Linked DNA regions of Homo sapiens. The protein of the gene in region 1 binds, or shares a complex with, the protein of each later gene. Each region holds a gene or a part of one and is shown on either strand. Other genes may lie near its edges.

Evidence for each region.
Region 2: MAPK14 (region 1) and NOD2 share a complex: the UniProt entries of both Homo sapiens proteins name them as parts of the signaling complex.
Region 3: MAPK14 (region 1) and MAP3K20 share a complex: the UniProt entries of both Homo sapiens proteins name them as parts of the signaling complex.
Region 4: MAPK14 (region 1) and AKAP13 share a complex: the UniProt entries of both Homo sapiens proteins name them as parts of the signaling complex.

What each region holds. Positions count from the first base shown.
Region 1 is NC_000006.12:36,023,389-36,031,083, reverse strand, and holds the start of MAPK14 (mitogen-activated protein kinase 14), read right to left. Parts: upstream 3,277-7,695; 5' UTR 2,927-3,276; coding exon 2,811-2,926; coding exon of another isoform or gene 2,585-2,810; intron 2,271-2,584; exon of another isoform or gene 2,174-2,270; intron 1,997-2,173; exon of another isoform or gene 1,924-1,996; intron 1-1,923. UniProt on the Homo sapiens protein: Serine/threonine kinase which acts as an essential component of the MAP kinase signal transduction pathway.
Region 2 is NC_000016.10:50,710,321-50,717,793, forward strand, and holds part of NOD2 (nucleotide-binding oligomerization domain-containing protein 2), read left to right. Parts: intron 1-237; coding exon 238-2,053; coding exon of another isoform or gene 2,054-2,054; exon of another isoform or gene 2,055-2,317; intron 2,318-2,432; coding exon of another isoform or gene 2,433-2,433; exon of another isoform or gene 2,434-3,269; intron 3,270-4,687; coding exon of another isoform or gene 4,688-4,688; exon of another isoform or gene 4,689-5,161; intron 5,162-5,288; exon of another isoform or gene 5,289-5,435; intron 5,436-6,266; coding exon 6,267-6,350; intron 6,351-6,570; coding exon 6,571-6,654; intron 6,655-7,473. UniProt on the Homo sapiens protein: Pattern recognition receptor (PRR) that detects bacterial peptidoglycan fragments and other danger signals and plays an important role in gastrointestinal immunity.
Region 3 is NC_000002.12:173,260,596-173,268,068, reverse strand, and holds the end of MAP3K20 (mitogen-activated protein kinase kinase kinase 20), read right to left. Parts: intron 7,007-7,473; coding exon 6,932-7,006; intron 4,325-6,931; coding exon 4,174-4,324; intron 2,020-4,173; coding exon 1,319-2,019; 3' UTR 54-1,318; downstream 1-53. UniProt on the Homo sapiens protein: Stress-activated component of a protein kinase signal transduction cascade that promotes programmed cell death in response to various stress, such as ribosomal stress, osmotic shock and ionizing radiation.
Region 4 is NC_000015.10:85,572,130-85,579,602, reverse strand, and holds part of AKAP13 (A-kinase anchor protein 13), read right to left. Parts: intron 4,473-7,473; coding exon 4,274-4,472; intron 674-4,273; coding exon 1-673. UniProt on the Homo sapiens protein: Scaffold protein that plays an important role in assembling signaling complexes downstream of several types of G protein-coupled receptors.

The DNA.
Region 1 (7,695 bases):
AAGATGGCACCACTGCACTCAAGCCTGGGCGACAGAGTGAGACTTCGTCTCAAAGAAAAGAAAAACTTCAAATAACTACGCTGAATCTCTGAATAAGATAACACTTAATTGTAAATCTAAATTCTGGTATTTTCATTCCAACATTAGTTATAATTTGTTTATTGTCAATTGTCATACAATTTCAGTTTCAGTTGTATTTTCTTTCACCAATATGCTGTAGGTTACATCTTAAATCCCTTTAGTAGAAAGACTACTAAACAAACAAGCAAATAAAAAAAACTGCCTCTCTGGAAAGACACAAGACACTTAACAGTGCCTGTCTTTGAGAGAGTAGAGTGGCTGGAGAACAAAAAGGAAAGGAGACTTTTCACTGAATATCTTTTTTTTTTTTTTTTTTGAGACGGCGTCTCGCACTTTCGCCCAGGCTGGAGTGCAGTGGAGCGATCTCAGCTCATTGCAACCTCCGCCTCCCGGGTTCAAATCATCCTCCTGCCTCAGCCTCCTGAGTAGCTGGGAGTACAGGCGCCCGCCACCACGGGCGGCTAATTTTTTGTATTTTTAGTAGAGACGGGGTTTCACCGTGTTAGCCAGGATGGTCTCGATCTCCTGACGCTGTGATCCACCCGCCTCGGCCTCCCAAAGTGCTGGGATTACAGGCGTGAGCCACTGCACCCGGCCCACTGAGTACCTTTGTAAAACTTTCAAATTTTATACAATGTCAATGTATTTTAAAAAATCTGTTCAATAAAATAAAAGTACTTTTAAGTGTCAGATACTGCTGGCTTCTATACCACAGAAAAGTATACCACTAAAGAACTGTGGAGTTAATTTTAATGGTACTTCACTGTAAATCTGAATCTCCTGTTCCAGTGCAGAGCTAGTCACCAATAGTAGCGAACCCTTGCAAGCAATTCAATTGGAGTTCACCCAAACCCTCTATAGTTGAGTTATTCTGCTGTATCACTCCATTAAAATTTAAATAGCATTGAAAACGAAAACGTGATACTACAGAAATGTATGTCAATTCAAGAATGAAAAAATGGAAGTATATTAATGAGCTATAAAATATTAAAAGAGCAATGATCCAAATACGTCTTTGAAAATTAGCAAATCAACTAGATATATATAATATGTATATACTGAATGTATATACCTATATAATATGTATATACTGAATGTATATACCTATATAATATGTATATACTGAATGTAAAATGCTGCAAACCAACTACACACACACACTCTCTGAATGTAAAATGCTGCAAATTCCTTTAAAATGTAAACTGCCATGCTGTAAAAATGGGAGAAAGATGTCAAGCACGGTGCTATCTGCAACATAACTTAAGCAACTTGAACTAGAAAATGCAATATGATCTGTTGCTGGACACAATTGCACAATCTCAATTACCCAGAAGATTCTACCAAACAGGAAATTCATGATGTGACTTTGGGAAACACAGAAATCATATTTAAAGATTAACACATCCAAAAGCCTGGAATTTGTTCCAAAACAAAAAAACGATTTTACAGGCCCGTTTTCAAATGACGCATACAATACGAATTACTAAAACACAGAAAAAGCTAACAGTTAAATCTGATACTTAGTTTAAGATCCGTAGCTTTCAAATTATAGAAAATCTAAAATACAGGGTATAAAACCTTGGAAGTTAAGAGAGCAGTTAGTGAAATATTTCAGGTCTGGAAATTATATGCTATCGACTTAATTTAAAACACACTCACGGTGTAAATTAAAGCTAAAAAGTATCTCTTCCCTTCCTTTTCTATGTGGTTCCATATCCTTACGAAAACCATCGTGTACCTCAGGCCATAAATGCAGATAACTAGATAACTCCCTGCAAGCTCTCTAAGGGACTTTTAAAACACAGTATTCGCAGGAATTATCTCAAAAAATATTTACAATACCTCCCAGCACTGTTAATAACTTTTTGATCTTGAGGGCGCCTTACAGATCTGAATCTTTCTTGCTCCAAATGAGAAAATTGTTTTGTCGAACAATACTTAAATGAGCAGTGGTATGTGACTAATCAGTGAGCCTGCCAGTTTCTCAAGCTGCAGTGTTCTTGCAGGCACTACCACCGCCGCCCCTCCACGGAAAGGAAATACGCTTTCAACCGAATCGGAAACACACCACTCAAGCTGGCACAGTGCTCACCGAGATAAAGTCGGTATTTTAAGCTCTATGGATCGCTGTTAATTCAAGTGCGAATTCAAAAAGAACGCTTTTCAAGATGGGATTTCGACAGAGTTTTGAAAAAAAAAAAAAAAAAAAAAGGCCCGGAGAGAGCTCCCTTCCTGGTCAGTTTTGTTCAGATGACCGCAGTCTTCGGGTTGGGCTGTGCCCTTCTGCTTCTCCCGGCAGTTCCCCGAGCTTGTCTGCTCAGAGGACCCAGGGTCCGGAGCCCCAGCGTGGGCGCATCACGGGAGAGGGTCCTTCTGCTCCAGGTAGGCAGGGAGACCCCCAAGGAAGCGGCCCTTCCCCCGGTGCCTGTTGCCGAGCAGCAACCCTCCGAGAGGGGAAGGCGCAGGGTGCTAGCCAGAACCGAGCTCCAGCACCACCACCTACCTCTCGCAGCGGACCTGAGTGCTGCACACGGTGGACCGCATACCTGCGTGAGTGCAGGGCGAGGGGTGCTGGAGGTGCAGAACGGGCAGAGCTCGAAGGGGCAGCAATGCCCTCCCCCGAGGAAAATTCCTGCCACTTGACGCAACGCTGAGCAGTGGAGCAGGCCTGGCCCTCGGGCGCGAGGGGCCACCCTGCCCACAGCGGCCCCAGGCCCAGCGACACTCACCACACAGAGCCATAGGCGCCAGAGCCCACTGGAGACAGGTTCTGGTAACGCTCGGGCACCTCCCAGATTGTCTTGTTCAGCTCCTGCCGGTAGAACGTGGGCCTCTCCTGAGACATTTTCCAGCGGCAGCCGCCGGGCAAGAAGGTGGCCCTGTGGGGCCCCCGCCTGCACCCGCACCCTCTCCCCGGCCCTTGCTGCCCGCCCAGCCGGGCGGGGACCTTGCGCTGGTCGCCCGCGCAGGTGCGGCTGCCGCGACCCCGCAGACTCCCGCGCGCGCGGCTGCTGTCAGCCGCAGCGGCTGGATGTGCCCCTGCGACTGGGGCAAGCCCCGCTAAGGGCAGGGACGCGCTCCGGCGCTCAAGACTGCGCCCGCCGCGATCTCCCTGCACCTTCGCCCCTACAAGGCCGACTCCGGGCTGCGTCGCAGTACTCCCGTTCCAGCTGCTGCGCCCGCTAAGGCTCCAGTGGTCGCGGTTCCAAGAGCCAGCAAACGGGAGCCTCCCGCAGTACTCTCGCGAGAACAGCTCCCGGGACTCTCCGAGAGCCGAGATTTTACCCAATATGGAACCTCTCCGCGGGCGGGGCTTCGTGAGAGAAGAGGATGGGAGGAGCAGTTCTCGCGAGAAGAGAACAATAACTGGAGACCAAAGGCAGAAACTCCCAGGGACTGTCTCCTTAAGGGCGCGAAGGCGGACCGGGGAAGGAAGAGAGAAGCTGGCAGCACACGCCTCGCGCGCCTCACCGTGGCCGGCGGGGCAAATACCTGGCTCTGTGGTGGAAAACGACACTGACAAATAGCGTGTCGGGGAAAGAGTCAAAAGATCTTTAACTGCGAGTAGTTACCAGCAGCAGAGCACCTGCTCACCTGAACCCCCAAATTCCAAAAAACACTTGCATAAAAAAGAGACAAGTGGCCGGGCGTGGTGGCTCACGCCTGTAATCCCAGCACTTTGGGAGGCCGAGGCGGGCGGATCACCTGAGGTCGGGAGTTCGAGACCAGCCTGACCAACATGGAGAAACCCCGTCTCTACTAAAAATGCAAAATTAACCGGGCGTAGTGGCGCGCACCTGGAGTCTTAGCTATTCGGGAGGCTGAGGCAGGAGAATCGCTTGAACCCGGGAGGCGGAGTTGCGGTGAGCCGAGATCGTGCCATTACACTCCAGCCTGGGCAACAAGAGCGAAACTCCGTCTCAAAAGAAAGAAAGAAAGAAAGAGACAGGTTCCGGCCAGAAGGCTGTTGCATTCCCATCTGCTCAAGGACATATGGGTTACTCTTTGAGATGCTGACGAAATATGTCCCAAAGGCAAATGTTAACCCTGCATCAAAGCTGAGGCTTTCCAGGGGCTGGGCTCAGTGGCTCACACCTGTTATCCCAGCACTTTGGGAGGCCGAGGCGGGTGGATCACGAGGTCAAGCGATAGAGACCATCCTGGCCAACATGGTGAAACCTCGTCTCTACTAAAAAAAATACAAAAATTAGCTGGGCGTGGTGGCACGACCCTGTAGTCCCAGCTTCTCGGGAGGCTGAGGCAGGAGAATTGCATGAATCCAGGAGGCGGAGGTTGCAGTGAGCTAAAATCGCGCCACTGCACTCCAGCCTGGCGTCAGAGGGAGACTCCGTCTCAAAAACAAAAACAAAAACAAAAACAAACCGAAGCTTTACATTAAAACTCTCCCAGTTAAACTTACATGCAGAAAAATCACCCTGGGAGTTTAAGATGCAAGTTCCCAGAACTCACAGGGAGTCTAATTGGGTAGGTCAGAGGAGGTCTTGATCAAGAGCATGCATTTTTATAATACATCTTAGGTGATTCTGATTCAGGAAAGTCTCTGATATCTCCCTTTGAGAAGCATTTAAAAAACCGTTACACTGAAGATTTGAAACTGACTCCTATCCTGAAGAGCCATCAGTGAAGAGGATTTTAAGCATTTAACTCAGGCCTCTTCGAGTAAGGAGAATAGGGCAGGAGTCTCATCGAATTTAGGCAAGTCAACTGACCTTTCCTGAACCTCAGTTCCAGCTTCTACGAGAGAATTCCTGCCCTGCATTCCCGACTAACAGAGTCATTTGTAAAAACCAAACAAGATAAATGTGAATGGGCAAGGCATTCTAACCCCATGCCTACATCCATTATCAACCTATGCCTATGCTAAAGCTTGTTACAATGAGCAGAAGAATCAGATCCTGTCTCATTCTCTTAGTTTCTTGTATTAGAAATAACTAGATCCAAGCCAGGACATTTCTCAACATTTCCCGTGATTATTCTATTTTGTGTCATACACACCTTGGAGGGCTCAGACTTTGCATATCTTGTCCCAACATCTAGCACAATGTCTAGAACATAAAACATGTGTCATAAATATTTGTTGAAAAAATTATGAACAGTGACCATGATTTCAAGTGGTACAGTATCCTCAGTCCTCTTCAAGGAAAGCAATATAAAACCAAAAAACAGATAGTCATGGGTGATTCATGGAAAGCTGTTTTGGATCCAATGTAGCTTAGGCTGGAATTCTCTTATCTACAAAAACATGTTGCTTGAGAATGTTCCAAACTAGGGAGGATAGGAAGCTTTCTAAGAAGTAATGGAGGGTGAAGGGGAAGTAAGAGCAAAAACATGATTGTGAAGACATGAGGGATGGGGTTGGGGGGATCAAGGGAATGAGGGAATGGTTACAAAGGGTGAGGAGGAAGCTTGGAAGTAGGAATCCTCAGAAATGCACATTTTTATCCTACAAATTGGGATGATGAGGTGAGGGTGAATGAAAGGGTAAAGATAAAGTAAGCAGTATATTCATACACTCATTCAACCAATGTGTATTAAATGCCTACTAGGTGTCAAACACTTGCAGTTTAAAAGTGATTAAAAACTACAGTTGCTGCCGGTGTGGAGCTTACAATCAATGGGAGGGCAATCATTCAACAAAAATTAATTGAATACTTCCTATGTCCACCACACTGCTGTAGGCACTGATAATAAAACAGTTAATGAAAGGGATAAAAGTCCTTGCCCTCATAGGGGTAAGATGATTTACAAAAAGGAATACATAAAGTGCATTATAAGGTAGACATTAACACAGTCATCAAACAAACAAGTGTAAAACTGTAACTGGGCCAAGCAGGAATACAAGGTGGAGTGAGAGACAGTGCTAGGGACAGGGATAGGGTGGGAGGAGGGTAAAGGGAGTGAGTGCAGATGGCATGTCTGCATCCAGAGCAGATCTGGGCAGGAGGGTGTCATTCAGTGGGGAGAGCCGGGTTTGTGGGGCAGACAGCCTATGGTTGGAGACCTGGGTGACCCTCCTAGCCTCCATTTCTTTTTACCTCTTCTGACCTGAGGAAGGCTTAAGTCTTCCGGAGACGTTAGTGAATTACCGTCTGTGCAGTACACATGTGACACATGTGCACTGCTGTATGTTCAGGACACGAGGCCTGGCACCAAATAGGCCCTCGATCAAGAATAGCAAAACCTCGGAGAGAGAAGGAGCCTTGGTATACAGGTTTACCAAATACCAAGGGGATCCCACGACTCAGGTATGAGGAGGGCGACCCAGGTACCACTTTCCTGGCTCCCTAGCCCAGCTGCTCATGCTCCTCTTCCTCGTCCCCTCCCCCACTCTCATCTCCTCAGCCCGCCCGGAACGCCCGCGGGCTAGGCCACAACGGCTCGGGAACCGCCGCCGGTATCCGCGTCCGCAGCGCCGCCAGCCAGGCGAGAGCCGTGTGGGATCCCAGCGCCCGCACTCCCGCCCCCGCCAAGGAGCCAGGTGAGCCGCTGCTGGGAGACGCCTGGGCGCCGGGGGCTGCAGGTCCCAGGGCGGGGGCTGCGTCCGTCACCGGCAGGTACCCAGGTATGCCGCAGAGCCAGGCACGCCGTGGGCACTCAGTCAGTATCTGTGGAATGAATGAATGATGGTCGTCCCTGGGAGCTTATCTCTGAGGTATTGTCTCTACTTTCAAAGGCCGTGTGGATGGCAATGACAAGAGACAACAGTGTGTGCGTTTTGCAAGCTGCATCCTTTCAAATTCTCCTGTCTATATTGTCAAAAGCCCCAGAACTGACGTGCTACCTGCACCCCACCGCCTACCCCATCCATTTCCTCCTGAGGCCTGACTGCCCGGCCGTTCCTCTTCCTTTCAGACCCCACTGCTTTTGTTAATTTTGTTCCCTGTGACTGAATCCCCACCCCCACCTCCTTGCCCCTTTCTTTTCATGTCAAATGCCGTTGATGTGTCAGGGGCCCCGTGAAGCCTTCTCCAGCACCCCCACCCCAATAATGAGCATCTCTCCAACACACCATGTTACTCTATCCACATTGCATGGAAGGTGGTTGTCCTATGTTTATGTGTCCAATGGTCATCCGCTTAAGGACTGTCATCTTACTAGTCATCCCTAGCCACTAGCCAGAGTGACTAAAGGATCTAAAGGCCAGGCTCTTTGCTTATACCTTTTCTGTATTCCCAATACATTCTCCATAAAAACCTAGGTAGTAACAGGTGTAGGGTTGTTTCTGATGGAATTACAAATGCTTATTTTGAAAATTCGGAAGTAAATTTTGCCTTTCCGTGATTATAGAAAACATAAGAAAGTTAACAATATCAGGGGGAAGATATTCCTGCAACTAAACTAGCTTTCAAGATTTCATATTATTTGGGTCAATAGCTAAAAAATTGGATTGTATTTAAACTTTTTATTCTTGACTTTTTTTTTTTTTTTTTTTTTTGAGACAGAGTCTTGCTCTGTCGCCCAGGCTGGAATGCAGTGGTTTGATCTCGGTTCACTGCAACCTCTGCCTCCTAGGTTCAAGCGATTCTCCTGCCTCACCCTCCTGAGTAGCCAGGACTACAGGCACGCCATCATGCTCGGCTAATTTTTGTATTT
Region 2 (7,473 bases), on another chromosome or scaffold:
CTCTGTGAGGTAGTGACCAACATTTCTCCCACCTTACAGAGGTGGAAACTGAGGGTTAGGAAGTTTCCTTGACTGTCCTCAAAGTGCACAGCTTGTGAATGGAGGAGCCAGGATGGGCGCCCGCTGGCTCTCCTATCCCTTCAGTTATGTCAGCGTCCCCCGCAGCAGCCCATTGTCTGGTTAGGTCCCGTCTTCACCATGGTGCCACCTTCATCTGCCTCTTCTTCTGCCTTCCAGCTGCCACATGCAAGAAGTATATGGCCAAGCTGAGGACCACGGTGTCTGCTCAGTCTCGCTTCCTCAGTACCTATGATGGAGCAGAGACGCTCTGCCTGGAGGACATATACACAGAGAATGTCCTGGAGGTCTGGGCAGATGTGGGCATGGCTGGACCCCCGCAGAAGAGCCCAGCCACCCTGGGCCTGGAGGAGCTCTTCAGCACCCCTGGCCACCTCAATGACGATGCGGACACTGTGCTGGTGGTGGGTGAGGCGGGCAGTGGCAAGAGCACGCTCCTGCAGCGGCTGCACTTGCTGTGGGCTGCAGGGCAAGACTTCCAGGAATTTCTCTTTGTCTTCCCATTCAGCTGCCGGCAGCTGCAGTGCATGGCCAAACCACTCTCTGTGCGGACTCTACTCTTTGAGCACTGCTGTTGGCCTGATGTTGGTCAAGAAGACATCTTCCAGTTACTCCTTGACCACCCTGACCGTGTCCTGTTAACCTTTGATGGCTTTGACGAGTTCAAGTTCAGGTTCACGGATCGTGAACGCCACTGCTCCCCGACCGACCCCACCTCTGTCCAGACCCTGCTCTTCAACCTTCTGCAGGGCAACCTGCTGAAGAATGCCCGCAAGGTGGTGACCAGCCGTCCGGCCGCTGTGTCGGCGTTCCTCAGGAAGTACATCCGCACCGAGTTCAACCTCAAGGGCTTCTCTGAACAGGGCATCGAGCTGTACCTGAGGAAGCGCCATCATGAGCCCGGGGTGGCGGACCGCCTCATCCGCCTGCTCCAAGAGACCTCAGCCCTGCACGGTTTGTGCCACCTGCCTGTCTTCTCATGGATGGTGTCCAAATGCCACCAGGAACTGTTGCTGCAGGAGGGGGGGTCCCCAAAGACCACTACAGATATGTACCTGCTGATTCTGCAGCATTTTCTGCTGCATGCCACCCCCCCAGACTCAGCTTCCCAAGGTCTGGGACCCAGTCTTCTTCGGGGCCGCCTCCCCACCCTCCTGCACCTGGGCAGACTGGCTCTGTGGGGCCTGGGCATGTGCTGCTACGTGTTCTCAGCCCAGCAGCTCCAGGCAGCACAGGTCAGCCCTGATGACATTTCTCTTGGCTTCCTGGTGCGTGCCAAAGGTGTCGTGCCAGGGAGTACGGCGCCCCTGGAATTCCTTCACATCACTTTCCAGTGCTTCTTTGCCGCGTTCTACCTGGCACTCAGTGCTGATGTGCCACCAGCTTTGCTCAGACACCTCTTCAATTGTGGCAGGCCAGGCAACTCACCAATGGCCAGGCTCCTGCCCACGATGTGCATCCAGGCCTCGGAGGGAAAGGACAGCAGCGTGGCAGCTTTGCTGCAGAAGGCCGAGCCGCACAACCTTCAGATCACAGCAGCCTTCCTGGCAGGGCTGTTGTCCCGGGAGCACTGGGGCCTGCTGGCTGAGTGCCAGACATCTGAGAAGGCCCTGCTCCGGCGCCAGGCCTGTGCCCGCTGGTGTCTGGCCCGCAGCCTCCGCAAGCACTTCCACTCCATCCCGCCAGCTGCACCGGGTGAGGCCAAGAGCGTGCATGCCATGCCCGGGTTCATCTGGCTCATCCGGAGCCTGTACGAGATGCAGGAGGAGCGGCTGGCTCGGAAGGCTGCACGTGGCCTGAATGTTGGGCACCTCAAGTTGACATTTTGCAGTGTGGGCCCCACTGAGTGTGCTGCCCTGGCCTTTGTGCTGCAGCACCTCCGGCGGCCCGTGGCCCTGCAGCTGGACTACAACTCTGTGGGTGACATTGGCGTGGAGCAGCTGCTGCCTTGCCTTGGTGTCTGCAAGGCTCTGTAGTGAGTGTTACTGGGCATTGCTGTTCAGGTATGGGGGAGCACCATCAAGGCTAAGTGTGGGAGCACCGAGCTGGGCTCTAGAAGTCTGGGCCCAGCTTCGCCTCTGCCACCCTGCTTTGCAACACTGCCCAGATCCCTTCCCTTCTGGGCCTTAATTTCAATATGTGATGATGACAGCCACACTTTATTGACTGGCCTATGTGCTGGGTCTGGTGCTATGCTTTCCGGAATGACCTCATCTAATCTCTACAACCACCCTGGCGGGTAGGCAGGAATGTTATTATCTCCATTATCCTTGACTTGAGGCTCAGAGAAGTGAAGTAACTTGTCCAGGAAATGGCAGAGCTGGGGTTCACAAATTGCATCATTCTGATTACAGGTTTTCTGCCTCCCACCAGTCTATGGATACACTTCAGAGGCTCCCTGAAAACCTTGAGGTCACTTGCAGAAAGTTTTGTGTAGTATGTGTCCGTATCAGGAACAACACCAAATCAGAGGTGACTTGTGCCCCATCAGAGACTTTAACACCCCAACCAGATGGGAATTTCAGGACCCAAGAAATAGAAAGTGGCTGCAGGGTTACAACTACTGTTGGATTCCTGAGGTAGCACAGTGTCCAAACAGGATTTCAGCACTACCCGTATTGCTTAGAGCCCCAGCCAAAGATGTGAGGTTTTGCCCTTTGGAGAATCTGTGCCCCTGAACTCGGGGGCCTCTTTCCACATCTTGGGGGCAGGCAAGGGCAGAGGGTGTGCCTAGGCCTGCGGATCAGCATGCGACAGATTCCCCAACATCCTTCCAGCTTGAAAGGGGATTGCCCTGCTTCTATTTAGAACCTATAGGAAAGCAGAAGTTCTAGATTGAAGTTAAAATTGATTCCCAGCCTCCAGGGGCTTTGGGCTACACCTGGATGACCTTAATTGACCCTAAGCATGGGACAAACCACTTCCTGAGAGTATTAGGATGGTATACATCTTCTCTGGGGGCAAAGCAACAAGATTTATTTTTCATCATGGACCAAACACATGGATACCCACTAGAAACTGTGTAGTGAATTTTGTTAACCCTGACATAGGGACCATGGTCTTTAGGTTAAAGCATAATAACAACATAATACATAACATATATAGCGAATATATATATGTATTATATGCAATGAATGTAAATATGATTATACCCATCATGGTCTTGGAGGAAACAGATGACACACTTAAAATGGGTGTTTTGAGGAGAGTTTGAAAAACAGATTGTTTACAAGCCATGGGCAGGAGTTAGGAAGAGTGAGAGGGTTGGTGCAGGGGCCTGGGGTTAGTAACAGCTGGGGGAGGGTAGACTTGAAGGGGGAAGGGGAGGGAGACTAATTAGCTGGGGGGAAGGTATGGAGACGGCTGCCTGAGCTTCTGCAAAGTGGAAGAATACCGCTTGGCCCTAACTCCTCACCCCAACTCTTGCTCCTGGCCAGCGCCTTCCACCAGCTGGACCCATCAGGGAGGCCGAGTGGGCTGTCTGCTGGAGTAGTCCCCAGGCATCAGCCTCCCAGGAGCCAGGGACGGGTAGAGAAGGGGGAGAGTGGATCTGGCCAGGCAAATGGAAAACAGCCAGCACCAAACTCTATTTCCCTAGGAGGGAGGATCATGATACTTTGAGTGGGAATTTGGAAACCTGTCTGTTGGAGCAATTTCCCTGATAGAAATAAGAATGTGCATTTTCCTGGGTAGTAGACTCAGTTTTTACCCCAAGAGGCCAGGCATCACTGGCCTGTGTGATCCTCATAGGCCAGTCCATCTCTGGAATTCTTGAATGGATCATCCATCCTTGATTAGGGATGTCCCCGTGATTACCAGGGTGTGCAGAAGGGCTCTGGGAAACCTGTGGGTCTGTCTCTGTGTTCAGAGAAAGGTGAGGGTGGCCTGGTTCTAGCTCATGGTGCTCAGACTGTGGTGTGTAAAGGCACTCGTGGCAATGCAGATTCCTGGGCCTGCCTCTAGTGATTCCCATTCAGTAGGTTTGGGGTGGGGCCCAGGAAATCTATATTTTTCACAGACACCCCTGGTGATTCTGATACAAGTGGTCTCGCCCTGGGAGAACTACTGGTCTGCAGCAACCAGCTTGGTTTTCCATTAGCAATTACTGTCCTTGAGCGAGTTTTACTGCTCTTCACCTTACACACACTAAAACTGCCAAGGCCGTAGGGGAGGGGAAGCAACCATGAGGTTGCTGTGAGTGCACTGTGTGTGTGTGTGTGTGTGTGTGTGTGTGTGTGTGTGTGTATGAGAGAGAGAGAGAGATTGAGAAAGAGAGGAAGGGAGGAAGGGGGAGGGCACAGGCTCCTCTCCCACAGTGCCAACCTGCCTCTCTCCCACTTGAAGTGTTTCCATGCCAACTGAAATCCTCAGCCTCTAGGAAACCCTATATACACAGTGCCCCTATATAGGTTTCTTTAGACTCTGGCTCTCTCAGACTCTAGAGTGATGGCTTTAAAAGTTTTTTGAATGTTACCCACAATGATTGAGAAAGAGAGAGAGAGAGCACGCACCACCATGTAAACATGGAACCTAAGTTTCACAAAATGACTTCGCTTTATGAACTCTGAGACACTCTGCTCTCTTCTGTTCTGTTCTATTTCCATTTTAGAAATGCTGCTCAGGACCTTCAAAATGATTTGCATGACCTGCAACCTGCAGTCTGAAAAATCACTGCACTACAGAAGTGGCCATAAGAGGCCCTGAGGGAGAAGCTGCACAATGTCATGGTTAAGAGTGGGGTTTGGAGCCAAGCCGCCTAGGCTCAAAGCCTTTATGTGCCGTACAACCTTGGCAAAGTCACTTCGCTTGTCTGTGCCTCAGTTTCTTTCTCACGAATGCTCATAATAATGGTTCCCATTTCACTGGCTTGTTGTGAGGATGAAATAGTGTTATTATTGAGAAGTGGTAAGGGTAGTGATCAGTGCTAGCGATCATGATTCTAGGTGACTTTTACTGTGTACCGGGTGCTCACAAGGCTTTATGTGCACAGCCTGGTGAGGCTGATAATACTATTGTTCCCTCTTTTTTTTTTTTTGAGACGGAGTCTCGTTCTGTTGCCCAGGCAGGGGGTACAGTGGCACAATCTCGGCTCATGCAAGCTCTGCCTCCCGGGTTCACGCCATTCTCCTGCCTCAGCCTCCCAAGTAGCTGGGACTACAGGCGCCTGCCACCACGCCCGGCTAATTTTTTTGTATTTTTGGTAGCGACAGGGTTTCACTGTGTTAACCAGGATGGTCTCGATCTCCTGACCTCGTGATCCGCCCGCCTCGGCCTCCCAAAGTGCTGGGATTACAGGCGTGAGCCACCGTGCCCGGCCTGTTCCCTCTTTTATAGATGAAGAGACCAGCAAATAACTAGTAAGTCGCTGATCAGGATCACAATATCCAGCTGAGGCACTCCAGAGCCTGAGCTGTTAACCATTCAGTCAGGGCCTCCCAAGTTTGCCTAAAGATAAAGAATCATGTGCACAGTTGTTAAAATATACAGATTCCTGGGCCCCACCCCGCAGATACTTGATTGCCAGCTCCAGGGTATGGGCCTGAGAATCTGTCTTTTAGGGAAGCTTTCAGATGATGTTGTGATCAGGTGAGTTTTGGGAATGGTGCCCCAAGAGGAGTGGCAGACAGGGCTTGCTCGGCAGGGACTAGCCTGTTGGAGTGGTGCCATTGGGGTTAAGGACTGGGCAGCAGGGCCTCACTAACCACAGCCTATATGCCTGTTTCTGAAGTTTTGGCCACTCTCATCCAGCTGGTCTACTGTCTGCTGACCTAGATGATGGTAAATTGTCCCCAGGGGTAGCCTGTCTAGTTCAGGCTGCACCTTTCGCATATATCAGCTCCTTTCCACCATCATCCCCTTTGTGAGGCTGCTGTGATTATCATGTTCCTTTTGCAGAGATGGAAACATTGCCTCAAATTAGCTCTGTCATTTCCTAAGGATTCCAGGGTTCTTTAGTAGGGGGTCTGGATCCTACGTCCTGGGCCATCCCCATCATAGTGCACCACGTCACCTCCCTGGCCAGGGACCGTGGGGTCTCCACTTTTTTGGGGTGCTCCATCTATGCAGGGTTTCCTGGAAGCACAGATGCTGGCACTTCAGGGATGAATGAAAGTCTTTTTGGGGGATTTGTAGATTTTTTTCTTGTCTTACTAGCTCCATTTTCAAATGTATTTATTTTGTCTCTTTAGTTTGCGCGATAACAATATCTCAGACCGAGGCATCTGCAAGCTCATTGAATGTGCTCTTCACTGCGAGCAATTGCAGAAGTTAGCGTAAGTCAGCCTGGGCTGTGGACAATGGGCTCCAAGTGCCCTGGTCTCACCCCAGGTCGTGCAGCCTGGGAAGCTGTGAGTGATGGGCTGGGGCAGGGGCTGTTTGCATGATGGGGGGTGCAGGTGATTCCTGCCCAGAGGGGAAGGGCAACCCTGGGATTTGGTGCTCACTGTCCAATGTGCTTTGCTTCTGTGTCTCCTCTCTTCTGGAACTGAACAGTCTATTCAACAACAAATTGACTGACGGCTGTGCACACTCCATGGCTAAGCTCCTTGCATGCAGGCAGAACTTCTTGGCATTGAGGTGAGCCCAGGTTTTCCTTATTCCCTGGAAACTATTTTTTGCCCCATTCCTGAGTCAGTCTGATCTGGTCTTGGCCTGGCACTGCCCACACTGGCTCCTGACCTCCTGATTGAATGCAGGGACAGTGTCTCATTTTAAGCAGGGGTTCTCTAATGCTGTGATCTCCCCAGTAAACTCTGGACTAGCTCTGCTGAGGACTTCCTGTCTTTTGACCTTTAGCCCGTAGGGCAAGAAAGCTTTTCTAGGCCCCTTTCCTTTTCTGTGTCTAAGAGTGTCACAGCTTTCTGGGTTTACTGAGTTCCACGATGCATGTTGAGCTCGTCCTGGTGGGGGAGGCATACACAGTTACTTGCCACCCCAGCTGTGGCAGCGAGTTGCTGCAACACTCCCAGGAGGTCCTTTCACCACTCAGAGCATGCAAGGTTTGCAGTCCATCTGGTTCTGCATTTCTGCTACTCCAGTGTCTCCCAGTTTCAACAGGAGTCTCTCTCTCTCCTACCTGATGCCTTTAAATTGCCCCTCTAGCTGGCCGCTGGGTTGGCCTGGCTTCTCTCTCCTTCTCTCTCTCTCAGATATTCTTGCCTCCTGTGATTTGTGAGGCAGTAAAAAAAGACAAAGTAAAGAATTGCTTCCATCTATTCTTTTACCTCTTGGGCTGGGTTTGTGGATGGGAGCCGCCATTTTAAAATGGCGGGCCACATAGCTCAGTCTCGGCAAGGGCTACTGAGATCAGAACCACAGGTGCCAATTTGTACAAAGGACTCAGTCCTGCTACCACTGCCTGATCCCTCAGACTCACAAGCCTGGAATAGGCTGTGG
Region 3 (7,473 bases), on another chromosome or scaffold:
CTATGTAGGGCTTAGTGAATGCTAAACAGGGTTAGTGAATGCTGAACAGAATCTCAGAATATTGAAAGTAACATTTATTGATTTGACATACAATAAGTTTGTTGCTACCTGACTTTTTGGTTTGTAAAACATGAAGCATTTCACAAGTTGGATCCCACCATTTCTGCCCTAAGCTGCAGACAGTCTCCTTGCACCCCCACTGGTTTACCTCTTTGCCCACAGCTGCTCAGAGCTGTCTTGCTGCAAGGCTGATATTTACTGTCTTACTCCAACAAGGATGTTGGTAATTTTAAATTTCTCTGGCTTTTAGCTTGTGATGTTATTGTCTTGCTCTGTGTCTGTTTTCTTTTAGATTTTAGATTTCTGACATCCCAAGAGGCCTTTATGGAGTGTTGTTTTATCCTCTTTGCTCCTTTGGTGAAATTTAGAAAATAGTATTTGAAAGCAGTCGCTGGGAACTTAGGAAGAGAAAGAACCACAAATCTAGGCAATTTAAATCTTTGGTTTCTGATAAATCGTAATGAATGAGATATGCATCATATTCAACATTAAATTCAGTAACTTTTTTTATTACTGAAAAATGACAAGCCAGATCAGTTCAACTCTGACCATCATACAGACACAAATATCTTACTAAAATAAATACTAAATACTAACCAGCAGGGCTGAGCCAAGGATGAGATGAGTGAGGTACCTGCCTTGGGCACAAAATTTAAGGGGACATCCAAAAAAAAGAGGGGGAAAGAAAGAAAAGAAAAAAGAAGCAACAAAAAACCTCAAACCAAAAAACTCGATAATCAAGCTAAATGATATTTTAATGCAATATTTAAAAAAATAAATGCAAAAATTATGATGAACAAAATATCAAAATGTTAAAGACAAGATCAGTAACAGTGCCTTGCCAGGCCATATTGCAGCCTCAGCCAAAAGGAAAAATCAGTAACATTCATCTTATCTTTTCCTAAAAATTTGATTTTTTTGTTGACCTCATTTTCCTTCCCCTTGTCCTGGCCCTGCTAACCAGAATATCAGTGGTTAGGGTAAAAAGATGGCATAACCTTTCCTCTAAAAATGTTCACTCAAGGCAGAAAATATGTGTAGTGATTTTCAAGCCTAGTTATGATCACTGGGTGACCAATATCCATAATTTTGGCCCTGGTTTGGCTATAGTCTCAATTAGAAGGTATTTCCCAATCCAAAAACTGGAAGTGTTGTCTTTTCGTTAATTCAATCTGAAGGGATCATATTATCAAAAACCATTACATTTCTTTTTTTTTTTTTTTTTAACCTGCTTAGAAAAGCTATGTAGTTCAATTCATCAAAAGTTTCTCCATCCACGGTGGTCCCCTCTGGCTCTCTCTTTATTGGTTTTGGCGGGAGATGGCCTGTGGGGCTTTTTCCGGTATTCCACTTTTGTCCAGCCCCCTTCGCTGACTTTGCTGTCCTCTTCACTGGCTCTTGAGTCAGTCTCAGGGTGCAAAGGCATCCCTGGTATGGTGTTGGGTTGGTGGAGGTCCCTGGGGCTTCTCTTGAAGTCAGGCGACTGGTGAGGATTGAGTGCTGACTGAGAAACCCTGTAGAACTTTCCAGGGTATCTTCCTCTTGAAGGAGTGGAATGCTGACTCTTTCCACTGTATCTTCCTCTAGGAGAAGAATTGAGTGATATACTACCACGTCCATATTTGTTCCTGCTTCTGTCTGAGTATCGACCCCTCTCTGAAGAGGTGTCAGTATTGCCACTGGAAAAGCCACTGTCCCTAGAGTTGAGATGTAGGGAAGAGAAGTTTTTGGTCAGTCCATACTGAGTAGGAGACGAGCTTCTGGACTGGTTCACAGGTGTAATCTGTTGATACTTAATGGGCACCTGGGGCCGTCTCACAGCAGCAGCGTAGGAATCCTGGCCATCAAAGTGTGAGAAGAACGGTGACCCCAGAATAGGATTGCTCTGGGAACGCTGTAAAGAAGTGTTGGATGCAATCTGCCGCATCCTCAGAGTATCTAACCACTGGCAATCAGCACCTGCGGGAGAAATGGAAATGAGCATCTTTTAAGCCACACTAAAGCTGCATGTCTAATTCATACGCCTGTCTTAGGATAATTCAGGGCTGTTTGGGATGCTCTAAGCTTTACCATTCATAGAAATTCTAGGCTATGTATAAGGACGTTTCTTTTATTACAAATACTTTAAAAAATAAGGACATTTACACTTATTCAATATATGCTATGTGCTTGGCATTGTTCCATGGGCTTTACTTACACTATCTCATTTAATCCTCTCAGTAATCTTCTTAGGTAAACACTAATAGTTTTATTCTATAAATGAGGAAGCTTGAGAGGTCAAATGACTTGCCCAAGATCACTCAGTCAATAATACCAAGTCCTTCTGCATCTAAATCCCATCTTCTTCCTACATAGTTGTGTTGTTACTTCTAGAAAGTATGTTCAGGTGGCAGGGGCATGTTTAGTAAACAAAAGGTTTGTTTTGCCACCTGCATTTTTAAAACCTCAAGGACCCTAAATGCAGATAAGAGAAATGAGGTTCCGAAGGTTGAGACAGCTAGAGATTGTTTGGAAGAAAGACCGTTCACGTGTCCACAGGAGAGATCCTGAGGCTCGGGAATAAGAAGTATTTTCAGCATAAAAAAATGAAGCTGCATTGGCAGATAGGAAGAAGTTAAGATAAAAGAAAATGGTGAATTAACAAGAACCATTTAGTAAGCTATATTTCAGTGAATAAGCAAGTTCCTCACACCTGAGATCTTTTCTGTTTTCCCCCGAGCCTGAACAACGTTACCCATGTTCTAGAGTTCCTGGGTGGTCCTCCCAGCCTCAGCTTCCTCAGCTACTCCACCCCCTGCTCACGCAGATAGTGCGCGTGGAGAGTATCAGAGCATGCACATGTCTCTGTCTCCTCACTGCCTGGGCACAGGTGACCCCGAGCTCTGAAGTGAGTGACTTGTCCAGACAATTCCAGAGACTCCTCCCAGGCTTCAGTCCATCACAATGCCTTCTTCTGTTGTTGTTGTTGTGTGTATGTGTGTATTTTATTGTGGTAAAAACCACATTTTCCATCTTAGCCATTTTTAAGCCTCTAGTTCAGTAGTGTTAGTATATTCACATTGTTGCGCGGATCTCTGTAACTGTTTCATCTTGCAACACTGAAACTCTATACCCACTAATCTCTACCTTCCTCTTTCTCCATTTCCCCTCCCTTCTCCCCTGCCCCCTGACCGCCACTTGTTAACTGTCTTCTACTTCCTGTTTCTGTGACTTTGACTACTTTACATACGTCACATGAGCAGTAGCATACAGAATCACAATGCCTTCTTTCCTCGCCTTGACTTCTCTGGAATTTTGCCTTCCAATAGAACCCTGATTTTGCTCAGTCTCCATCCCCCTCCATGTAGCCACGTGATCGGGAGAGTTGACTGCATTCTGGCTCCAGGGATCGACTTTAATTAGTTTAAGTCAGATGTGCTCATGCTATGTTTAGGAACGGACAGGTTGCTCCATTCTGGCCAAAGCAGAATTGCTGACGGGTAGTCTGTTGGGGGTTTCTAGAAAAGTTTTCCTTACTCCTATATATAAGAACAGGTAGGGACCTAACCCGTTATTTCCTCTGGGCGTTGTGATATCTTTGTGTGATGACTGTAAACAGGAGAGGAGCCGAGGGCAAAGGCAGCCTATTGAGCATGGCAGGGCAGAAAGAAGGGAAGGTTCATTCCACTCTCTGAATATGGTTGAGCCAGCTTATCTTACTGCACCTGGAGCCTGCCCTACCTCTGGGCTTCTTGTTATGGAAGATAATAAATTTTATTACAGTTTAAATCAGTGGCTTAAGGACTTTAGAGTTGTTCTTAATCACTGGGAAGGCTCCTTAAAATGCAGACTGCAGCTCCTATCCCCAGAGTTCTGATTCAGTAAGTCTGGGTTTGGGCCTGAGCATCTGGATTTCTAGCAAGTTCACAGGTGATCCCGATGCTCCTGGTCCTGGGGCCACACTTGGGGAATTATTGGAGTAAGCCAGTTGCAACTGGGTTTTCTGCTACTCGAAGCTCAAAGATAGATCTTAACTGATTGAGGTGGTATCCTCTGAGTCTTTAGATCATCTGGAAATGTCATAATTAAGTTTCTGGAATCTAGCACACATCTAATACGGGAACACTAACTTACTTGAGTCGGACCTGCTTCCAGGGTTGCCATCTGAATTGGTGAATAATGTCTGAATGGCAAGTTGGACTGCTTTCACTTCATCCTGAGGTTTTGTTCTACTCCACTGAATCGAATGGACATGTTTAGTGCTTTTTGGAGTTCTAACATCACTCTGGTAAAACAAACAAACGAAAAAGACAAAAAAAAGACAAATAGAAACATATGACCAAATAGACACACATATATAAAATGGGAAAGAAAGTCATCCAGGTTATTATATCACTTCAGTTTCACCTCTTAGAACACTATCATAATGCACTAGGAAAATATTCTGAACAGTTGGCCCAAATATGCTAATTCAATGAAAAGAAAAATTTTAACCACTTTATTTCTTAGTGGGTTATAGCACTTATTCCTTAATGGATTATAACATAAATTTCTTAGTAAACTATAGTAGCTAAAAAATATGGTTGTCTTTTCCCAGAATTTATTATATTTGACAAATCTCAACTTACCTCTTTGTTTAATAAGAAATAAAAAATTACATCTTCTATTTATAGTACTTGATGACAGCTATTTTGTTGAATAAATGAAAATCTGACCACCATGTTTGCCTAAGACTGAATTTGGATCATCAAGGAAACTGAGTGAAGGTGGTGGGGTGAATTACCTGCACGGAGGGGAAAGGGTCTCAGATGCAAAAGTGAGACAGGATCAAGAAGTAAGAAATGGGGACCAGGAAAAGGAGAGGACACTAGGTCAAGACACATTACTTTCTTGTTCTGAAATCTCCCTCCTCACTAGCTGTCACCAATCAGTGTCAATTAAAGAGTCTCCAGGATTCAATATGGTTAGGGAAATCTGTTTTAAAAAACTCTGAAGTGAAAAACCCAGACAAAAGTGGCATATCATCATGGGGTCTGAAAAAGGAGGAGGAGGGAGAGAGAAGAAGAAAAAGAGAACTGGGTGTGCTGTCTCCAAAACTGTCTAAGGCAGGCAGAGGTAGAATCTGGTTGTTCTAATTGTCCGATTACTAACAAGAGGGCTTTTCCTGGGTAGTGAGGACCAGTTAACAGGCTGTAGAGTAGTCTAGTTTCCAAGTTCCTCAAGACCAACCAGCCTCTTTTGTTTGGGTTTTGCACCTTGCAAGCAATGCTTTGACAAGTAATATAACTTCTCAGATGCCTCATCCCTGACAACCTGTGCACCCCAGCAGGTGAGGATAAATAACTGCTGTAAAACTTTTTGGCTTCCAGCCTGGATAAGTGGACTGGCCAGAGTTTGTATTGCTTTGCTTTTCTTTTTTTTTTTCTTTTTTGAGACAGTTTTGCTCTTGTCTCCTGGGCTGGAGTGCAATGGCGCAATCTCAGCTCACCACAACTTCTGCATCCAGGGTTCAAGCGATTCTCCTGCCTCAGCCTCCTGAGTAGCTGGGATTACAGGCATGCACCACCATGCCCAGCTAATTTTTGTATTATTAGTAGAGATGACGTTTTACCATGTTGGCCAGGCTAGTCTCGAACTCCTGACCTCAGGTGATCCACCCGCCTTGGCCTCCCAAAGTGCTGGGGTTACAGGCTTGAGCCACCGTGCCTGGCCCAGGGTTTGTATTTCTAATATTGAAAAGCCAAATCCTGGCAGCCCAGGAAACCATCAAAATGCCACACTCACAGAGTCCTCTTTGAGGTGGACTTCATCTTACTGCAGCCACTGGGAGCTAACAGGGTAGCCAGGGAAGCGCAGAAAGTGTTTTTTATAGTCAGAAAACATGGAATTGACTTCAACAATTCTGTCAGTGAGGACCTCACACCTCAAGACTTCCTTTCATCTCTCTGAGCCTATTCTTCCTATCTGCAAAATGAGGATAATAATATCTTTCAGTATTTTTTTTTTTTTCTGGAGACAGGGGTCTCACTGTCTCACCCAGGCTGGAGTGCAGTGGTGTGATCTCGGCTCACTGCAGCCTCAACCTCCTGGGCTCAAGCAATCCCCCGACTTCAACCTCCCGAGTAGCTGGGACCATAGTCATGTGCCACCACACCTGGCTACTTTTTGTATTTTTTGTAGAGATAGGGTTTCATAATGCTGCCCAGGCTGGTCTCAAACTCTTGGGCTCAAGTGATCTGCCCACCTCAGCCTCCCAAAGTACTGAGATTACAGGTGTGAGCCACTGCGCCTGGACGATATTTTTCAGTATTGATTTACATGAAGTTAGTGTGATCAAACTGGTGTAAGCACCTCTAATAGTGCCTGGTTCATGGTAGATCCTTAATAAATGTTTCTTGAATGAATGAATTGATGAATGAATGAAATGCATGTCCCTTTGATGGTGGGTGCACACTAATATTTCCAGGTGTGCCAAGACTGTACTATAACTGTTGCCTTCCACCCACTCCCACCGGGTCTACGTACCTTGTAAGGTGTATGTCCTACCAGCCATGAAGATCTTGTTGATTTAAAAAAAATTAGTATTAACTATTAGTATCCCCAATACCAAACATCTTACATGGTATACAGAAGGTGTTCAATCCATAACTAATGAATGACTGAAGTACTACCTCAGTCGCTATCTGGGTAAGTTTATCCTGTTCTCTTTTCTTCCCAACACGTTGTGAGAGAAATTATATTGATCTTCCTATGTTCATGTTGGTTGGTTTACTCCCAATAAATTATATGCTCTGGGTATATCTCCCAATAAATTATATGCTCTGAGATAACAGATAAATTTATATTCATTAACTGATGGTGAGGCCACCAGCCTCTTGCCCCCAGAGCTTACCTCATATGTGACAGTGCACTCCACAGTCTGACTTTTTGCTATTCCTACAATCCACTTCTCCATTACAAATGGTGGCTGAAAAACAAAAGTTAGGATGGTGTAGTACCATAACACAGTCTGCTCTACTATAGTATGTTTCTTTGAGGCCGGTTGTGCCATACACAATTAGCAAATAGGGGCATAATATCAGATTATCATGAAAGCCTTGTTGGTTCTCATGTGATCACTCACAACATGCTAATGTTTGAAGTTTTGCTTTTCATAAGACATCCTTTTGTATATTTGTAAACAGCTAGTCATGGCCTCCCACAATCTTCTTTTCCGATATAACATTTGCTATCACTCAATCCTATCATTAGGTCATTAATTCTTGCTAAAGTTTGAAGCATCAGTTGGAAAACTTCCCAACAATTAAGAGAAATCCATAGCAATATGAGAAGACCCAGAAGTGCTTTCCTTGAGTAAAGCCGTGGCTGGTTTAGTGGCTTCAACAATCGCTCTGCTTTCCATGACATCACACTATCCAGCAAAGCTGCACATAC
Region 4 (7,473 bases), on another chromosome or scaffold:
TAGAGTTCTCAAATCTTTCCTTTGTACTTTCCCCTCCCTGAAGCACATTCTTCCAAACAGTGGCATCTGGGTTCATGAGCCCATGTTCCATTTCCCCTGCAGTGTCTGGGGTACTGACATTTGTTGTTGAAATGCCTCCCAGTTCACCTCCAGAGGAATACTGGGCTGTGCCTGGCTCCATGACCAAGTCTCTCTGAAGCACAGCATCTCCACTGCTCAGGGACTCCTGGTCTGTGGGCATTCCAGAAGATTTTGTTCCAGTTTCTTCATTTCTGTTTCCACAGGACGAAAGGCCTTCCGTGCCCTTTACTCCACAATCAGGCAAGCTCTGAAGGCAGCTGTCTTGATCAGATACAGTTCCAGAGTCCACAATAGGTGCTGGCTCCACCTCTTCCCCTTTTCTTTCCACGCCTTTATTTTTCTTCCTACAGGAACGGTCTGTATTCTCCTCCTCAACTATGCTTGACAAATCACAGGGACTTTCAGTCTGTGCAACAGGGCTCCCTGGGCAGCACTGAGTGCTCTCAGTCTCTTCAGAAGAAGAAAGTCGCTGAGGGTCCGTGGGCTCCGGTGCACAGGGAAGAAACTGGCCATCTGTCTCTGGGGCACTGGAAGGATCCTGTGCTGTCATCATTAAGGGCATAAGACTGTCCATCTGCTTGAGGTTTGTTTTCTAGGAGGAAATGAAATACACTTTTAAAAAACTGCCTGTAGGAGAAGATGTCACTGACACCTCTGAGCAAAAATTCTGTTGGACAGAACTCACTTCTATTCTAGCTCTTCTAAGGTCACATGATAAGCGAATCTAAAAGAATACAAATAAATTTCCTCTTATTTCTGATATTACTTTCCTTTCATATCTGCCTATATACTGGGATGTTCAAAATAGATTAGGATATATGAAATATCTATTTTCTAAATTTTGAACTTATTTTAGGAAGTAGATGAAAACTGAGTCTCGCCGGGCATGGTGGCTCATGCCTGTAATCCCAGCACTTTGGGAGGCTGAGGCAGGCAGATCACCTGAGGTCAGGAGTTCGAGACCAGCCTCAACATGGAGAAACCCTGTCTCTACTAAAAATACAAAATTAGCTGGGCGTAGTGGTGCATGCCTGTAATCTCAGCTACTTGGGAGGCTGAGGCAGGAGAATTGCTTGTACCCGGGAGGCGGAGGTTGCAGTGAGCCGAGACAGCACCACTGCACTCCAGCCTGGGCAATAAGAGCAAAACTCCGTCTTAAAAAAAATAAAAATAAAAGAGTCTCAAAAACCTGATTTTTAAAAAGCTCAGTGAATATCTTCAATTGAGCTGCTAACATTAAGGTGGGCTCTCTCATTCTGAGGCCAGGCTGAAGTGCAGTGGTGTGATCACAGCTCACCGCAGCCTTGAACTCCTGGGCTCAAGTGACCCTGCCGCCTCAGCCTCTTCAGTAGCTAGGACTACAGGTGTGCACCATTGCACCTGACTAATTGTTTTATTTTTTGTAGAGACGGGGTCTCACTATGTTGCCCAGGCTGTTCTCCAACACCTGAGCCTATGGGATCCTCCTACCTTGGTCTCCCAAAGTGCTGGGATTATAGGGCCTACACCACTGTGTCCCACCTATATTTTTCATTGTCTTCAGAAGGGCAGAGTCTACTTACACCCTGCCTCATATATACAAGTAAAAACAAATCCTAGCTCTTTTCCATTACAAGGTGCAGCCAATGTGCCTGTGCCCTAAATACTTACTGAGTTCAGTGTCCTTTAATCCCCAAAATATGTTCCAACCAATCTAACTTAACCATCGAGTTATGGGGTCATAATTTCAGGAACAGTGGCATGGCAGATATTCTTTCACCTTTTGATAAAATCAGAACATATTAAATATAAAATAAATGAGAACATATACCTATATACTGTCAGAGTATATTATGGATACTATATGTAATCTCAAAAATGGATTTTGCAACTTTAAAGTATTTAAAAAATATAAACAGATATAACCAACAGCATGGGAATGATTAAGAAAATCAAGGTTCATAAAACTGATGGAAGAAATACTAGCCATTATTAACTATGAGGACCATATTGCAATTAGAAAAAAATTATTAATCTAAGTTTATAAATATGCAAAAATCCCATGTGCATGCAGCAAGGTTTAAAATGGAGAAAAACAAATACAGGTGATCTTTAGTGATTTTACCTTTATATCAAAATTTCAAAAATTCTTATAAAAATATTTTCTCAACACCTAAAATCTATTTTTCCAAACATCTGGTTTGCTCGCCATTCATTCATTACCTGATCTACTGCAATAATATGCATACCTACTGCCATCCATCCTCTCATTCACCTACTCACTCAGTGAATATATTGGGCACTTACAGGGTTCCATCATCAGACCATTCCTATCTACCTACTGAGCCTATTGTAAAAGTTTATATGTACAAGTGTAAAATGTGTCATGCTTGTTAAAGTCTTTCTAGTAGAGTGTACAAGCAAAATGGACTTTCACTAAAAGCTTCTGTGTTAGGCTCCTTAAGAGTATTCAAAATTAGCTTATTTCCAGTCCTGCTGAGAGTACGACAGTCTCCTAAAAATCAGGAAATGAAGTCATTAAATTTAATAAATGGTAAACATTATAAAACAGAAATCTGGCGAAACAAGTAGTGTTGCCTAAAGAAAGTAGCACATGTATGTTCCCACAGTTTTAATTTCTCGTATTTGCCTGCCAACCATTTCCATATCTTGGCAGGTAGCTTTGGTACCTGCAAAACTATATTTTCAAGTGAACTACCATTCACCTAGTAAAAAGAGCTCTAAGGAAAAACCTGATTGCCTAGAAGTCCATTCAGAGGAAAATGAAATGTCACGTGCTCTGGAACAAACACAATTCTAAAACACAAAAGTGGGAGCATCACATAACCCTATGGAATTTCTTGGCTTGCTGGTCTCAAATAATGCATGCTCCCAAAGAAGCCTCTGGCATTGAGCTGACCTTAAATGAAATTACTGTCCAGTGGTTTCCAAATCAAATCAGCTCTGAAATAAACTGGGTGGAAAAATTACCTAAACACAGCCTTTCAGATGTTATGCCCAAGAGAGATGTACACATATGACGTTTATGTTATTCGTAATAAATGCTAACAGGGAGTCTGTAATGTTTTTATGTCTGGCAACAACTTTATCTTGAAGACTTGAGTGGATTATAAAATCTTTTCTGTTTTTTTTAGCTATCTTTGTACCATACAACTATTGATTTAAATATAGTAACACTATATTTAAATGGTACATATCATCGCCACTAAAATAGTTGTAAAAATACTCCTGATTAAATTTGGTTCTTGTTCTTTGGCAACAATCTCAGAAACTGTTGGTTCTTTCATTTTGTAAAGTTAAGCCAAACACAGACAAATATCCTTTTATGCCAGAAATTTAGTTCTAGTTGTTGCATATTTCTGTACCTGAAATGTGTGTCTTCCATTATTCCCAAAACCAATGAAAAAAACCTCTCAGTCCCCCTACGGCTACAACCTTAATGCTAGCTCTGATCTGTAAGTGGTAACATTTAATACTGCTAATACTGCTTTACAGGTCTCAGAATCTTTGGGGAAAGTCCTTCTTTTTCTGTTTTTGAGACAAGGTCTTGCTCTGTCACCCCGGCAGGAGTGCAGTGGTGTCATCTCAGCTCACTGCAACCTCTGCCTCCCAGGCTCACATGATCTGCCTGCCTCAGACCCCCAAGTAGCTGGGACTATAGGCGTACGCCACCATGCCCAGCTAACTTCTGTAGAGCCAGAGTTTCTCCATGTTGCCCAGGCTGGTCTCAAACTCCTGAGCTCAAGTGATCCACCTGTGTTGGCCCTTCCAAAGTGCTGGGATTACAGGCATGAGCCACTGTGCCTGGCCAGGAAAGTTTTTTTTTTTTTGAGACGGAGTCTCGCTCTGTTGCCCAGGCTAGAGTGCAATGGCGTGATCTCGGCTCACTGCAAGCTCCGCCTCCTGGGTTCACGCCATTCTCCTGCCTCAGCCTTCCGAGTAGCTGGGACTACAGGCGCCCGCCACCAGGCCGGCCAATTTTTTGTATTTTTAGTAGAGACAGGGTTTCACCGTGTTAGCCAGGATGGTCTCCATCTCCTGACCTCGTGATCCGCCCGTCTCAGCCTCCCACCAGGAAAGCATTTTTATGTTCTAATTATATCAAGGTTCATTGGAGGAGGGCGGGGACACACACATACAAAACACACACATACACATGCATATACTTAAAAATAAAAGCTTTCTGACTTACCATTAGTTGCTGTTGGATGTTCATAAGTTTAAAAATTGGTCCAGTGCAACCGTCTCCAGGAAATGGGTGTTCATGATGTGAATCAGACTCAGAGGTTAATGTATAGATGTCCAACTCTCGATGATGCCTCACAGAACAGTCTCCATACGGTATTTCATAGGATAAACTGCTCCAGGAGTCTGGTTCTCCAGCATTCTCCCTACATGCAAGCATCTCTGGTTAATATATATACATTCTGCCTCCCAGGCATAGGCTTAACGTTCTAAGTCTTACTTCGTATTTCTAACCTGATTGTTCTTTGAGGTTCAACAGCAAAAATTAGTATATATACCTCCCAAATGATTCAGGCATATAACCAATAGCTCCATCCTCCTCACAAGAGATCACAAATGGGTTAAATGAAAACTGCAGGACTCCTAGCCCTAACAATGTTCTTTAGATCAAGATAAAGAGATATGTGGGATCTAATAATAGTTAATATTATGCTAACAACCAAGTAATGAGGAAGTGCAAGGAAGATGGTTTTAGCCTGATTTTCAACAAAATCAAGGCTTATTAAGAGGTGCTCTTAAAATAAATTAGACCATATGCTAACTACAGTCAATTATAATGGCAAGAGAAGAACCACTCACTCCAACCCTTACAAGGGCACTCCAACTTTTCTAACAATAGGTGCAGAAAACACCCTCAAGATTATTGAAGTCAATTACACAAAGAAAAACTGTTACAATGACATATTGTTCAACACTTGTCAATATAATTATCATATCCTATTTGGAATAAAGCACTTGGTTCCAAGAACTTAAAGTTAAAATTCGTAAAATTTAAAAAACAAGCAAGTTTGCTCAACTCATATCATTATAAACAAATATAACAACTTTCCACCATTATACGCCAACTGATTTGAACAAGGCAAGTGGGTTTCTCCTCTAAAGGCTACAGCACCTCCAATTCCACCCTTGCATCCAGAAGGCATACCCATGCCCGTAATGCCTGCTGTGATACCACACATAATCTGCACTGTGCTTTTTTGCAGCAGATGAAAGAATCTTGGGGCATACAATAAACAGGGATGAGGCACACAATCATACCCCACACAATCTCATATTATTAACTATTGTACTTGAGCACGCATTTCAAGTGTTAAGCACCCTCTTCTACATTCAGCACAAATGTAAATGTCTGAAGTCCTAACCGTTGGTGTCACTATTCTTTCTCATTAGTTTGATACACAGTGTGGTATACAGAGTTAGAGATTTCTGGGTACAAAATTTTATCTCCTAACTATATGATGCTAGACAAATTTCTTAACTTTTCTGAGCCTTAATTTCATAATATGCAAACACAGATATTATAATCTAAGCACTGTTTTGAGAATTAGAGAAAATGTGCATAAAAAACTACATCTATGGTGTTTGACACAGAGAAATCACACACGGATACTGCCTATTCTTCCTCCTTCTACTCTTTCATTCATTTAAAAATAATTCCTAGTAAGCCTTCCCTTCTTAAAAGTAGAAAAACATATCTACTTTTTTCTATTTTTCTACTTGTATCAGAAAATCCTACTTTCTCTGAAAGCTTTAAACATAATGAAAACACTCCTCAAACAGCATTCTGATAAGGTGCCTAGCAGCTCAAAGATCAGGCACAATAATAGATTATGCTTTCCATCAACCCTTTCCTCCTTATATGAAATGTTATTTTTCCTTTCCTTACAACATTAACACCTTTGAATATCCCATATCATATCATATTTATTTATTTATTTATTTATTTATTTTTGAGACAGAGTCCCGCTCTGTCGCCAAGGCTGGAGTGCGGTGGTGCGATCTTGGCTCAATGCAACCTCTAACTCCCAGGTTCATCGATTCTCCTGCCTCAGCCTCCTGAGTAGCTGTGATTACAGGCGCGTCCCACCACGCCCAGCTAATTTTTTTGTATTTTTAGTAGAGACAGGGGTTTTGCCACATTGGCCAGGCTGATCTCGAACTCCTGACCTCAGGTGATCCACCCACCTTGGCCTCCCAACCTATATCACAGTTATTATAATCCCACCAAAGCAAACAATAGATTGGTAAAGTATCCCTGAGATTTTGGGAGGAAGGTTATATTTGAGATCATTATCATGTTTTGAAATAGAAGAAACTAAAGAGTTAAGAAATTACAGACATGCTATCTAGCCACTGAAAAATATGAGAAAGATTACTTCAACTGTCTCTCCAGTTTTTTCTACTAAGTCACACCTGTCTGTCATTAACAATTCACCTGAGACTAATTGGAATTTTAAAGCTAAAAATATGCTACAGTAGCAGCCATAAAAAAGGATGAGTTCATGTCCTTTGTAGAGAAATGGATGAAGCTAGAAACCATCGTTCTCAGCAAACTAACACAGGAACAGAAAACCAAACACCACATGTTTTCACTCATAAGTGGGAGTTGAACAATAAGAACACATGGACACAGGAAGGGGAACATCACACACCGGGGTCGGTCAGGTGGTTGGGGGCTAGGGGAGGGAGAGCATTAGCAGAAATACCTAACGTAGATGATGGGTTGATGGGTGCAGCAAACCTCCACGGCACGTGTATACCTATGTAATAAACCTGCACGTTCTACACATGCATCCCAGAACTTACAGTGTAATAATAAAAAAAAAATTTTTTTTTTAATGCTACAGTGGAAAACGTATAAGGCAATGGAAAATCATGTACTGGCTGACGGTAATAATAATAAAGTGTACTCCAAAAACTACTATTACAACTTCCATACCCAAGAGTGGCTCCCCAAAAGCAGCTTAAAATAAGAATGGCATATGCTATACTACATGTTTTACATATTTTACTAAGTTGCTATACTCTGAGTGAAATGACCTCAAACAGAAAAGCACTTGTAAAATACTCTCGACAGTTCAAAGAAACGACTCAAGAAGTCAAATAGCGGGGAGACAACTTCTCTATCAATGTAGCTTTCAAGCCTACATTGACATAGTCACTAACATGCCTTATTGTGTGGCAGACATTAGTGGCATATCTGCTTAATCAGATTATCACATACAGCCATATTCCAACAAAAAAGATCTCTGAAAACAAAACCTGCTTTATATACCACCACTGAGCATGACCCAAATATAACAAGATTAGAGGACACTGTTTGCCAAGGCAGGAGCAATTAAAAAGTGATACAGTCCATTCTCCATG